2 separate regions of the Homo sapiens genome follow, and region 2 is linked to region 1. Evidence: fine-mapped expression QTL. A gene starts in region 1. The other region holds a variant in brackets. All regions are shown on one strand. Distances are between the middles of the regions.

The links. PIP is the estimated chance that this variant, and not a neighbour inherited with it, causes the effect.
Region 2: its variant is the best candidate, but not a certain one, in a credible set for the expression of NPEPL1 in whole blood (TOPMed, PIP 0.65).

The regions. Positions count from the first base shown.
Region 1 is chr20:58,690,441-58,695,806 of GRCh38, reverse strand. It overlaps NPEPL1 (aminopeptidase like 1), which reads right to left and starts at 3,007. Exons shown (of 12, transcript NM_024663.4): 1 at 2,757-3,007; 2 at 1,885-2,070; 3 at 1,215-1,385. The coding sequence starts at 2,906. It overlaps STX16-NPEPL1 (STX16-NPEPL1 readthrough (NMD candidate)), which reads right to left. Exons shown (of 23, transcript NR_037945.1): 9 at 4,580-4,773; 10 at 4,245-4,402; 11 at 4,027-4,083; 12 at 1,885-2,070; 13 at 1,215-1,385. RefSeq lists enhancers at 821-1,428, 2,869-3,574 and silencers at 2,492-2,581, 2,602-2,681, 2,712-2,871, 2,882-3,371.
Region 2 is chr20:58,657,280-58,662,645 of GRCh38, reverse strand. STX16 (syntaxin 16) reads right to left here. Exons shown (of 9, transcript NM_001001433.3): 2 at 3,012-3,023. It overlaps STX16-NPEPL1 (STX16-NPEPL1 readthrough (NMD candidate)), which reads right to left. Exons shown (of 23, transcript NR_037945.1): 2 at 3,012-3,023. Among named protein-coding and RNA genes, the nearest start is that of STX16, 8.7 kb to the right of the region's middle. RefSeq lists an enhancer at 880-1,379. The variant CTTT/T (reference allele first, on the strand shown) is at 3,186.

The DNA of each region.
Region 1 (5,366 bases):
AGAGGATTAAGCAAGGCAAACCAGTTAGACTTTTTTAAAAGCTCAGAGACGAAGGGAAAAAAGGGGAGCTATCTCATGCTGGTGAAGATGGAAGAATTTGGGTTGAGGGGCAGTGGTTACAGGCCTCAGAGAGCACACAGTGAAAGAAATGAGGTGTGGCCCAAGTGCTGATGTGGGAGAGCTTGCCTGGGTGAAGGCGACAGCCTTCCAGAGCCAGAAGTGAAGAATGAGCGCTGACACATGAGAAAAGACAACCTGGGTGGCGCTGTGGGCTCGGGGACTGGAGGTGGCAGGCGCAGAGGCTGGGACCGCTGCCGTGGGGACAGGAGCCTGATGTCAGGCCCATCCAAGGATCTGGAGCTGGGAAATCACTTCCGGCCTTGCAGCCTCAAAAGGATCATTCTCAGCATTGAGTGAAATAACACATGTAGAAGTGCTCCCTGTAAAGGGTGCAGCAACACACATGCACACACACCACACACACACCACTCATGCACACACTAGCACTCATACACACACAGCAACACACACAACACACACACACACCACTCATGCACACACCAGCACTCATACACACAGCAACACATGCTGCTCATGCACACACCAGTACTCACACACAACAACACACACCACACATGCACACACCACACATGCACACCACACACACACACCACTCATGCACACACCAGCAAACACACACACACAGCAACACATACCACACGTACACCACACACACCACTCATGCACACACCAGCAAACATACACAGCAACACATACCACACACACACACACATCACACATGCACACACACACCCCCCACACATACAACACATGCACATACACTCATACACGCACAGCAACACACATGTGCACGCACATACACACACACGTGCATACATCACACACGTGCACACGGAGCTCACATAAACGGGCAGGGTTATTTGGAAAACAGCATGGACGTTCCTGGCACTGATTACGTGCTCAACAAACACTGCCTGTATACAACAGAATCCTGAAGTCACAGACCACGCTGAGGCAGAGGCAGGGGGCCTGGGTTTGGAAAAGCCTCTGCCGCTTCCCAGGAACCAAAGCTCCTGGGAAGGGCAGGAACCCCCTCCTGCCCCCGCAACAAGCTTTTCCCTCTCCCGACCTCCCTCCCACCTGCCCGATCTTGCCCGGGCCCAGGGGCAGTGTCTGCCCTTCCAGACACCCACCTGCAATGTGGACACCTCCACCGGCCCGTTGTCTTGTCCCACCAGGAAAAACTCCACGGTGACCGTCTTCTTCTCCAAGCGCCGAGAGGCACCTGAGCGGTGGGTGAACAGCGGGAAGGCCCGGGCCAGGGCACAGGCGGAAGCAAAGACCTCCGGCTGCTCGCAGACCATCTGTGGCACATAGGGAGACGGCGTGAGGGGTGCAAGGGCCGCCACCAGGGAGTGCAGGGAGCTGCTCTTTGAACGCCTCCGGAACATCAGCTCCCTGGCAGGTGACATCTAGACAGAGATGTCCCACAGCAGCCGCCACCCCATCCCTCAGGTCATCCCCGGAACCATGGGACCACCATTGGTCATGCTCCAAGAGAAATAACACATTGGCCACCAGATGTCAACAGCCTGACCAGCCATGAAAATGAGGGACAGAGGGACAGACACAAAGTGGGCCTCAGGAAATCTAGGTTTGAGTCTCTGATTTGCCACCAAAACTGATCTGGGGCAAATCCCCGCGTCTCTCTGGACCTGTTTCCCTGTCTACAGAGCAGGGATGATAACGTCCACAGCCCTCTGGGCGTGCGCTGCAGTCTGAGCAGGGCTGTGAGCTCCCCAGGCCCGAGCTCACCGCTGCCCGACTAGGAGCACCGTGGCTGCCTCCTCTCGAAGCACTCACCACAATGCAGCGATGCGCTCCGGGCGGCAGGCAGGTCCGCACCAGCCGCGTGATGAAGTGGGCGGCCGAGGGGCTGTTGTGCCGGCTCACCCTGCAGGGCAGGGCAGCCACGGTGGCGTAGTTCAGGTAGAGGGGACAGCTGTCCGTGGGGTTGGGGTTGAGCGTGCTCAGGGCAGCCTGCCAGAGCTAGATCAGAAGGGAGAGACAAGACACAGAGGCTTCAAACAGCGGCCACGTGCCAGGAGGCCCTGCCCTGCAGCCACGGCCACAACCACTCCTGCAGTCCTGGAAGGGCACTGCGCAGCTCCCGGCCACCGTTTTCCCATCCTTAGGGAGATGTGTCGCCTCTCTGCAGAGCTAACTGTCTCTAGGCTGGCTCGCATCCCCCTGGTGGGATGAAGCCACCAAGCCTGGAAGGGCCAGGCTGGGGGCTGCTTTGCTTCCAACACTCGGATAGGGCTTAGGCGGCTTCCACCAGAGAGGGGGCAGGGGCCAGGTGTCCCCAAGGAAAGGCAGCTGGGGACACTGCCATGGGAACTTCTGGAAGCCAGGGCCTGTCGCCAGGCGGGGCCGACGCGCGGCCCTGGGAGCGGCCACGTCTCCCCCCCCGCCGTCCGCAGGTGTCGCGGCCTCGCGGGGCGCAGGGCTGGGCTGACAGGAGGACCACCGCGCCGCACCGGCGACGGGGCCTGGGGCTGGGCCTCCGCGGGCGAGGACTGGCCTGGCGGCTGAGCCCTTCAGGGAGGCGGCCCGGCCTCGTTGGGCCCGGCCCGGCGGCGGCGGGGGTGCGGCGGGCGAGGCGGGGCCTCCGCGGGCCGCCCGGGCCTGGGCTTCCGCGGCGCGGGTCGCATGGCGGCCGGCGGCCCGCTCACCTCCTCGGTGACCCGGGGCTGCAGCTTCCCGCGGACGTGGCTCCAGGGCACGCGGTGCAGGTGGTGCAGCTGCCCGAGCAGCAGCAGGGGCCGGCTCTGTGGGTCCGAGTCCCCCGCGCTCGCCTGGAACTGCAGCCCCACGTTCGCCATCTTCCTGCCGGCCCACGCCCCGGCCCTGCCCGGCCCGGCCCGGCCCGCCGCTCGGCCCCCTTCGCCCCGCTCCGGCCCGGCCTCGGCACCGCCCCGGCCCTGCCCGGCAGCCCGCGGGCCCCGCCTCCCCCGCCGCTCCGGGCTGCTCGCGAGACGTGCAGGGCCCGCCCGGGGCGCGAGGGGGCGCCGGCCAGGCCGGGCGGAAGGGTGCGGGCAGGCCCGGCCGGGCAGGCCCGAAGCCGGCCCCGAGCAGGCCCTGCCGAGTAGGGCCCGCGCGCCCGGCCTCCAGCGGCGCCGCCCCTGGGCCTAGCGGCCCTGCCCAACACGCGGGGCGACGTGGCCCGCCAGGCAGCGCCTCCCGGACGGGCCTGGCCTCCAGTGGGGCCTGGGCCGACGTAGGCCCAAGCCCACCCGACGCAGTTCCGCCCGGTCAGGCCTCAGGCTGGCCCCAAGCAGGTCCCCCGAGGTCCCTTAGCAGCTGCTTTTGATCCCCAGGGACCCCGCACCCTGGCCACCCATCAGTTAGGCCGGAGGGGCCCAGTGACTCTTGGACCTGAGTCAGGTCCTTTTGTCCCACTGCCTGGCATGGTGGGTACAGCGTGGACGGTCACTTCCTCCTCACTTAATCGGAGGTTCCCTGGCGTTTATCAGACCCCGCTCTGCCAGGCACTGCCCTGGATGTGAGAGGGTGACAGGGACGTGGCTTTCCATCCAGGGCACTGCTGCTGGGATGGCCAGTTACAAATCCAGGCACTGCCTGGCTGCATGGGGGGCCTTCCCGCCCACCCCTTTGCAAGAAGGGTCATCTGGCACAGTCTAAGCAGGAAAGGAGGGACGAGATGAGACGAGGAAGGAGCAGGGTGACCTGAGTCACCTCAGTCGCCTTACAGGGGAGGAAAGGCCATCGGGGGTGTGGGGCAGGAGCCGGGTGGTGGAGGAGCCAGGGGTGAGCCTTGAGTGGATGGTGGAGGCGGAGGGTCCCACCCACAGGGTCAGATGCAAGGGTCAGGGAATGACGATGCATTGGGGAAGCTCCACCCAGGAGTCATTTAAAAGCAAAAATCTGTTACCCAACATCCTGATTGCTCAAGGGCCTTTGGTTGGTACCCTCCTCTGTTACCTCCATGTAGTTCCATAAGCCACTCCTGTTATTTTGAGTTTCTTCTTCATAACCAGCCTAAAAATGAAAAAAAAAAAAAAAAAAAAAGAAAAGAAAAAAAGAAAAAAAAGCACTGTCAACTCCCTGGCGTGGTGTGAGAGGTTTTCCACCACTGACCTCCCAGCTGGCCCCCTAGCTCCCTAACTTGTAGCCCCGGGAGCCACAAGCCAGGCTTTCACCTTCCCTGTCCACAGGCTCCAGGTCTGTCTGCTCAGCTCTGAGCCATGGTCCCTGGCCCCTTGGAAACACCACAGACTAGAGCTTCAGCATCCTGAAGGCAGGTCTTTTTGACTTTTTGTTGTTTTTTTTTCCTCCAGTTCCTGGCACAGAGCAGGCACTCAAAAAAAAAAAAAAAAAAAAAAAAAAAAAAAAAAAAAGCTGTTGAATGACTGAAAGGCATTCCTTTGAAACCCTCAGCTTTCCCGACATAAAAGTCAACGCTAATTGGATCTTATTTTCTTCAAAAGATTTTACAGCAGCTGAATGTTTTCACACATTGGTAAAGGGTACTAACAGTGTGTATGAAGATCTCTCACTCTTTTTTCTGTTTGCAAATACGTTGCAGACAGGCACACGGCACTCCAGAGGACTGAGACAGCTGGAGGATCTTCCTAGAGGGTGAGAGACTAAGGCCATGCCCTGACAGATGTAATAGGACTTCCACAGGCGAAGAGATTGAGAAAGAAGGCCTTCCACGTGGGAGAAGTCCTGGGAGGAAACACAGACGCAGAATATGTCCAGCAGGCTCTGAAACCTGTGTGGTTAGAACAGAAGGTTCCTGGAAAATAGGAGTGGGTGAGGAGATCGACTGGGGAGCCTGGCTCACTCTATAGAATTTTGCAAACTGAAGAGGGATCCAAGAAGCATTTCAGAAAGCCAGATCTAGCAGGTTTGTGTACAAGGAGTTGGAAATGAGATAAACTGTTGGTGGAGAGGTCATTTTGGAGATGTTTTTCTTTTAGAATTCTTTCATATTTAAGAATAGACTGAATAACCCTGACAGTCCCCAGAAAGGATGAACAAAATGATTCAATTCAACCAACATTTGTTGAGCACTTAGTGTACACAAAGCAAGAGAAAACGTTAGATGCTTGTTAAAAGCAAATATTGGTGATTCTGGTTTTAAGCCACCCCCGAATTGAAGAAATCCAAACTAAACAGAACGCTAAGGAATTATTCCACTTCAAATGCCTGCCAATTTCCTCAAGATTCAGCTTGTGACAGATACAAATACATTCCAGGAAAGTACTTTCCCTTTTTCACTGCTGACTTTACAGACTTTAACATAAATAAGACAGGCA
Region 2 (5,366 bases), 33 kb after region 1:
CCAGCTACTCAGGAGGCTGAGGCAGGAGAATCGCTTGAACTGGGGAGGCAGAGGTTGCAGTGAGCCGAGATCGCGCCACTGCACTCTAGCCTGGGCAACAGAGTGAGACTCTGTCTCAAAAAAATAAAAATAAATGATACAAAAAATATAGAGATAAAAACACTTGAGAATCACATCACCCTGATACTGTTGTTAAGTTTCACTGATTTTCCTTTTTTCTCAACTAACATACATACTCTGAGGGGAAGAAAAAGGAGGGGAGCAATCCGTCCCTCCCTGCCTTCTGTGAGCACTGTACTGAGCACTGCTACTGACCTGGCCCATGCCAGTCCCAAGAACAATCCTTCAGAGGAGCGCCGCTCCCTATTTCACCAACATGGACACTGGGGCCCGGCCCAGGCACTCCCAGATGTGCAGTCCTCCAGGCAGTGTGGTTTGGGGGCTTGACATTTGTTATCTTGTGACTTTTAAAATAATTCTTGAGTTTAAAAACTCCCAGAGATTTCTTTGTCATAAGACAGGAAGTAGATTAAAGACAGAGAACAAAGGAGAGGGCCAGACACTTCCCTGGGTAAGAGAACCAATGGTGGGCTCGGGTCCTCCTCAGGGAACACCTTACTTAGTGTTTTCTGAGAAGGAAAAGTGACATCTCCAGGGTACTCAGGCTAGAGGAGGAGAATGACAATCAAACATGGACAGACTGCAGGAAGCCTCTGAAGTGAGGCCGTCAGATGCCTTTACTCTGGGAGATGCAAGTGATATTCACTCAGGGACATTTGCTCAGGCCTCCCCTATAAAGGGGTGGCTAACATCTAATCCACTCTGGAGCTGGGTGTTCACTATTTCCAGAGATGCCAATGTGAGGCCCTGCGTCAGCTTCAAAGAAGCCTCTGGACACTGTCCCCAACCACACCCCCTGCTCCTAGGCCAGTACCTGGCACTTCAGAGTCCTGAACGCACAATCACAACCAGCTGAGTGATCCGACAAGAAACGAGTGGAATGAATGCACGAGGTAAATAAAATGTACGTCACAGACAATTGTGGAAGCCACACTTCATGAAAAAGATAACGGCACTGCACAAAAGAGCAAAAGAGGCAAGTGAAACGCACAAGGAAATGAGGTGGCCGTGGGCACCCACGATGAGGCAGCAACCTGCATTTCTAATAGCACTGGGGTGAGCGTGGAGGAGATAGTGCTCTCTACGCAGGGCCTCTGATCACAGAGCGTGAAGACTCCCTTTTAAGCCCTTAGAGGTGAAACATAAGAAAAGCAAAAGGGCCTGCCAAGTTCATGCAGTGAGTAGCCAGTTTCTGGAACTTGCTGCCTGAAAAAGGAAGTAGGAAAGACTGGAAATCGGTTCAGACAGCAGACCCCGAAGTAATTATGACCACTTATGTGCCCCTCCTTGGAACATTATTCAAATGGTTCTTCAACCTAAGTGGTTCCATAATTTGTTACCCTCCCTCGCATCCTATACACTTCCTTTTGAGGTCATAAGCTCCATATCTTCAAACTGTTCAGCCAGTAGCAACATCTATTTTAACTCAGAACGCCTGCTCTCCAAGCCCCCAAGCCCTCTCCAGGGCCCCGTGCCCAGGCGGGGAGCTGGCAGTGAGGTTCCTGAATGGGAAAGGAAACCCCCACACAGGCATGACCATGACACCTGGCTCAGTCAGCTACCCGTTGAGTGGTGTTTTTTTTTTTTAACTAATTGTTTTTAGTGGCAAAGTATACATGCACATGGTTTAAAAATATATATCCACCCTAAGAAAAGGGTTTGCAATAGAAAGGAAGTTTTCTATCCCAGATGTTTCTTGGGGTGTATCCACTGTTAACAGTTTCTTGTGTATCTTTTCAGGAATTTTTTAAGCACACACAAGCATAAATATGAGTTATTTTTCCTGAAAAAAAAAAAAAAAAAAAAAAAAAAGGAGCAGGAATCATATTATCCATGCTGCTCTGCATCTGGGTCTTTCCACTCCGCCATGTGTCTGGGGCTTATTCCACTGCAGCTCTCATGGATGGGCCTCACTATTTACCTGTTACAGAGGGTCAGAGATGCTACACAATATATTTAACCAGTTCCCAATGAAGGCTATTTAGGCTGTGCTCAGTCTGTTGTCATTATCAACTAGTTAAGGTTTTTAGAATATATAGGTAGATCTGAATCTACTAGTTAGGACCCCACTGGTTTTAAGGACAGTGATCCTCCTAATCCTACTTTACTATTCATACTTCTAAATGAAAACAAACAAGAACAACCCTCACCTCTCCATCACTCTACTTAAAAGGTCTATACTCAGGAAAAATATTCTTACCCCTTCAATGCTGAAACAGACAATAGACACAAACATTAACAACAGTTTTAATCTCATTTTTTCTCAACCCTTTTACTCCGGCTACTAAAATAAAGTGCTTTGAATATATATTCTCTCCACCTTCTGGGCAAGATGCTAGTAGCTAATAAAAAGGCCAAAGGCACCCCCAGCTAGGAGATGCAGAACTGGGCCCAGGTGACAATAGCTCCAGGTGCATCCACTGGGTGTCATCTCATTCCAGACAGGAGTGACAAGGAAGACCCTCCCACAGTTGCCGTGGCTACAGTCCTTCTCATTTAGGGCCTTCACAGACATGCTGGCCTTCTATACTGTCTACCTGAGGAAGTGCACGACTCACTTCTCAGAAATCAGGAAGCTACAGACATTAATTCTCAAAACATTCTGGCTTCCTTGAAGAAAGTGTTCAACCTTTACTGCTTCCAAAGTTAAGACACTTTCCCAAGACTAGTAAACGATCTTCCCAAAGCCTTTTTTAAATCATCAGTTCACATGGTGTGAAAATAGATTAAATTCTACATATTAAACTGTTAAAAAAATTATAAAGTAATCAAAACAAATGCTAAATATGTATAAGCTGTTAGCATTTTATATATGAGCAAAGACTTCAGGAAAAGTAGGTATTTTATAAACTCAAATTACCCAACATATAAAAATATTCAAAACACAATACCTCGTCCAGCTCCTGAAGAGACATGTTGTCCCCATCAGTCCCATCCAGTTGGGGAAAGCACAAAGAAAGCAGCATGGGACAGACAGACAGACAAGGCATGGTCAGTTGAGAAAACACTGAGATTTTAAGCTGACTAAATATAAAGATCCACTAAGCAAGGCATTTTAAAATCTC[CTTT/T]TTTTTTTTTAAATTAAGCTACATCAATATATGCTTTAATTTTTATTTACTGTGGTTGTTTTGAAAATGAGCTAGGAAACAAGCAAAAAATGACTGTAAATATTAAAATACACTGGAAACAGATAAAACACACTTGCTTTGGTTTCACTAAAATATGCTGTTAATCTGTTTCATAAACACCAAATATCACATACAATACCACATTCTATTTTCCCTCAGGAAAATAAAATAAGAGAGCAGAGCTAAAATGTAATTTTATCATGTTAAATAAATGTATATTTTAACATGTAAATCAGACCTGCAAATGCAACAAAATTAAAAAATAAATGACCCACAAAAATTGTCTGTAGCTGTATTCAGATAACATGTGAGTGACCACATATGTAAGGTCTCTGCAAATTACATCCCGCAGACACGGCTTCATCCCTGGTAGTAAGAGAGCTGAGAAACCACTCTTTCCCGGAGAGAGACACAGGTGGCAAAATAAAAGAAAAACTCTTACCATCTCTTGGTATGTATTATTATTAGCTAGAAAGCATACAGTTATTCATAAGGCTCTTATAAAAGCAAGCAAACGAGACAAAACAAAAGGTAAGAATAATTTTTTTCTTTTAAGGGGAGGGGGAAGGGAGAAGCATGACACCAGAGGGTTAAGTTTCAATTGAAAAGTAAAGGTTCTTTTTTAGATCAACATGGAACTCTATCTTCTGGACAGACATTTACTAATGACAGATAATCTAAACAACTAGGTCTTTTTTTTGTACAGTATTGATCACTGAAATAATTAGTGGTGAAATTCAATAATCAATTGTGTTTTTTTATGTTTAGCAGTAAATTTAGAAAATAAAACATAACTTTCTTATTTAAAAATAGTGCAAATGAAGCTGCTCTATCAGGGTCAAAATATTATTAAACAATGATAGCAATAAAAATGTAATCAAACTTTACTCCACGTAAAAATTCAATTAGATGACATTATGAAAAGCTGCAAATCCTCTTCATTCCTTCCACAATTTTCTATGAGAGCAAAAAAGAACTCTATACACACCCTGCCATAATAGTAGTACTAGACGATATTAATAAATCAAATGGAAAGCTGATTTAATTACCTTTTACTTTACAAAGAAAAAATGTTTTTATTTTTTAAAAGCTTAACATTAAGAGAACATTAAAATCTTTTATTAATAAAACATGATGCAAGACAAAATCCCTAACTTGAGTATCTCAGTCTTCTTCCTATTCTGCAGCGGCTCCCTGGCATTTAATCTTTGAACGATGTACTATTGCAAACCTCGGTTAAAATCTCTGCTGCACATGTGCCTATGCTCTTGGATTATTAACCGAGCACACACACCCTGATCTTCTGATTTCTACAATTATTAGTTGATAAGAGGTGAAATCAGAATCATGGGATTCTAGGGCTAGAAATAAGTCTTTTCTTACAAATAAGAAAACTAAGCTTCAAAATGTATAAATGCATTGCTTGAAGCCACAGAGCTTGTTAATGGTCAGACTGGGGACAGACCCAGGTGTTCAGGTCTCTTTCCACCCCACCCTCCAGCCTCTCTAATTTTATTAACAATTCAGGGAATTACTTGTGATAGGCAGCTACCACCACATCAGGAATATTAAATTAAGGTCACCTTTTCAAAGACCCTCCCCACCATTCTGCTATTTAAAAATAGAAGGCTTTCAAAATTCTGTCTGCCACCAAATTACCAGGAAATTTAGTCAAGACCTGAATTAAAACATTTAGAATTACCATCAAGAAAGACCAAAATAAAGCCAAATGAAAACACGTTACTACACATCATCACCTTCTAAATCTTTATAATGTCTAAATCTAGGTTTTTGACCTTCCAATGGCATGCAATCAAGCAAACACTGAAAACTCCAAGTAGCATGTGGAATTTATAGTCTAAAGAACTTTCTACATAAAACTGAAAAATAAGTGGAAACCCATCTGTGTTTACTCAGGAAGTCTGGAAAAGTTGAGCAAAATGAGTTGGAAACACAGGTCTATGCTATAGTGATATTTACTTTATTTCCGTTACTGCCAAAATAAAAGTTTGCTTCACTTTTATCCAACAAAGTACCCTTATTCTCAAAGTAAGCCTCACTGCTCCCATGGAATCTTTAAAAGCAGAAAAGCAAGTAGATCTAAAGAGAAATATATAA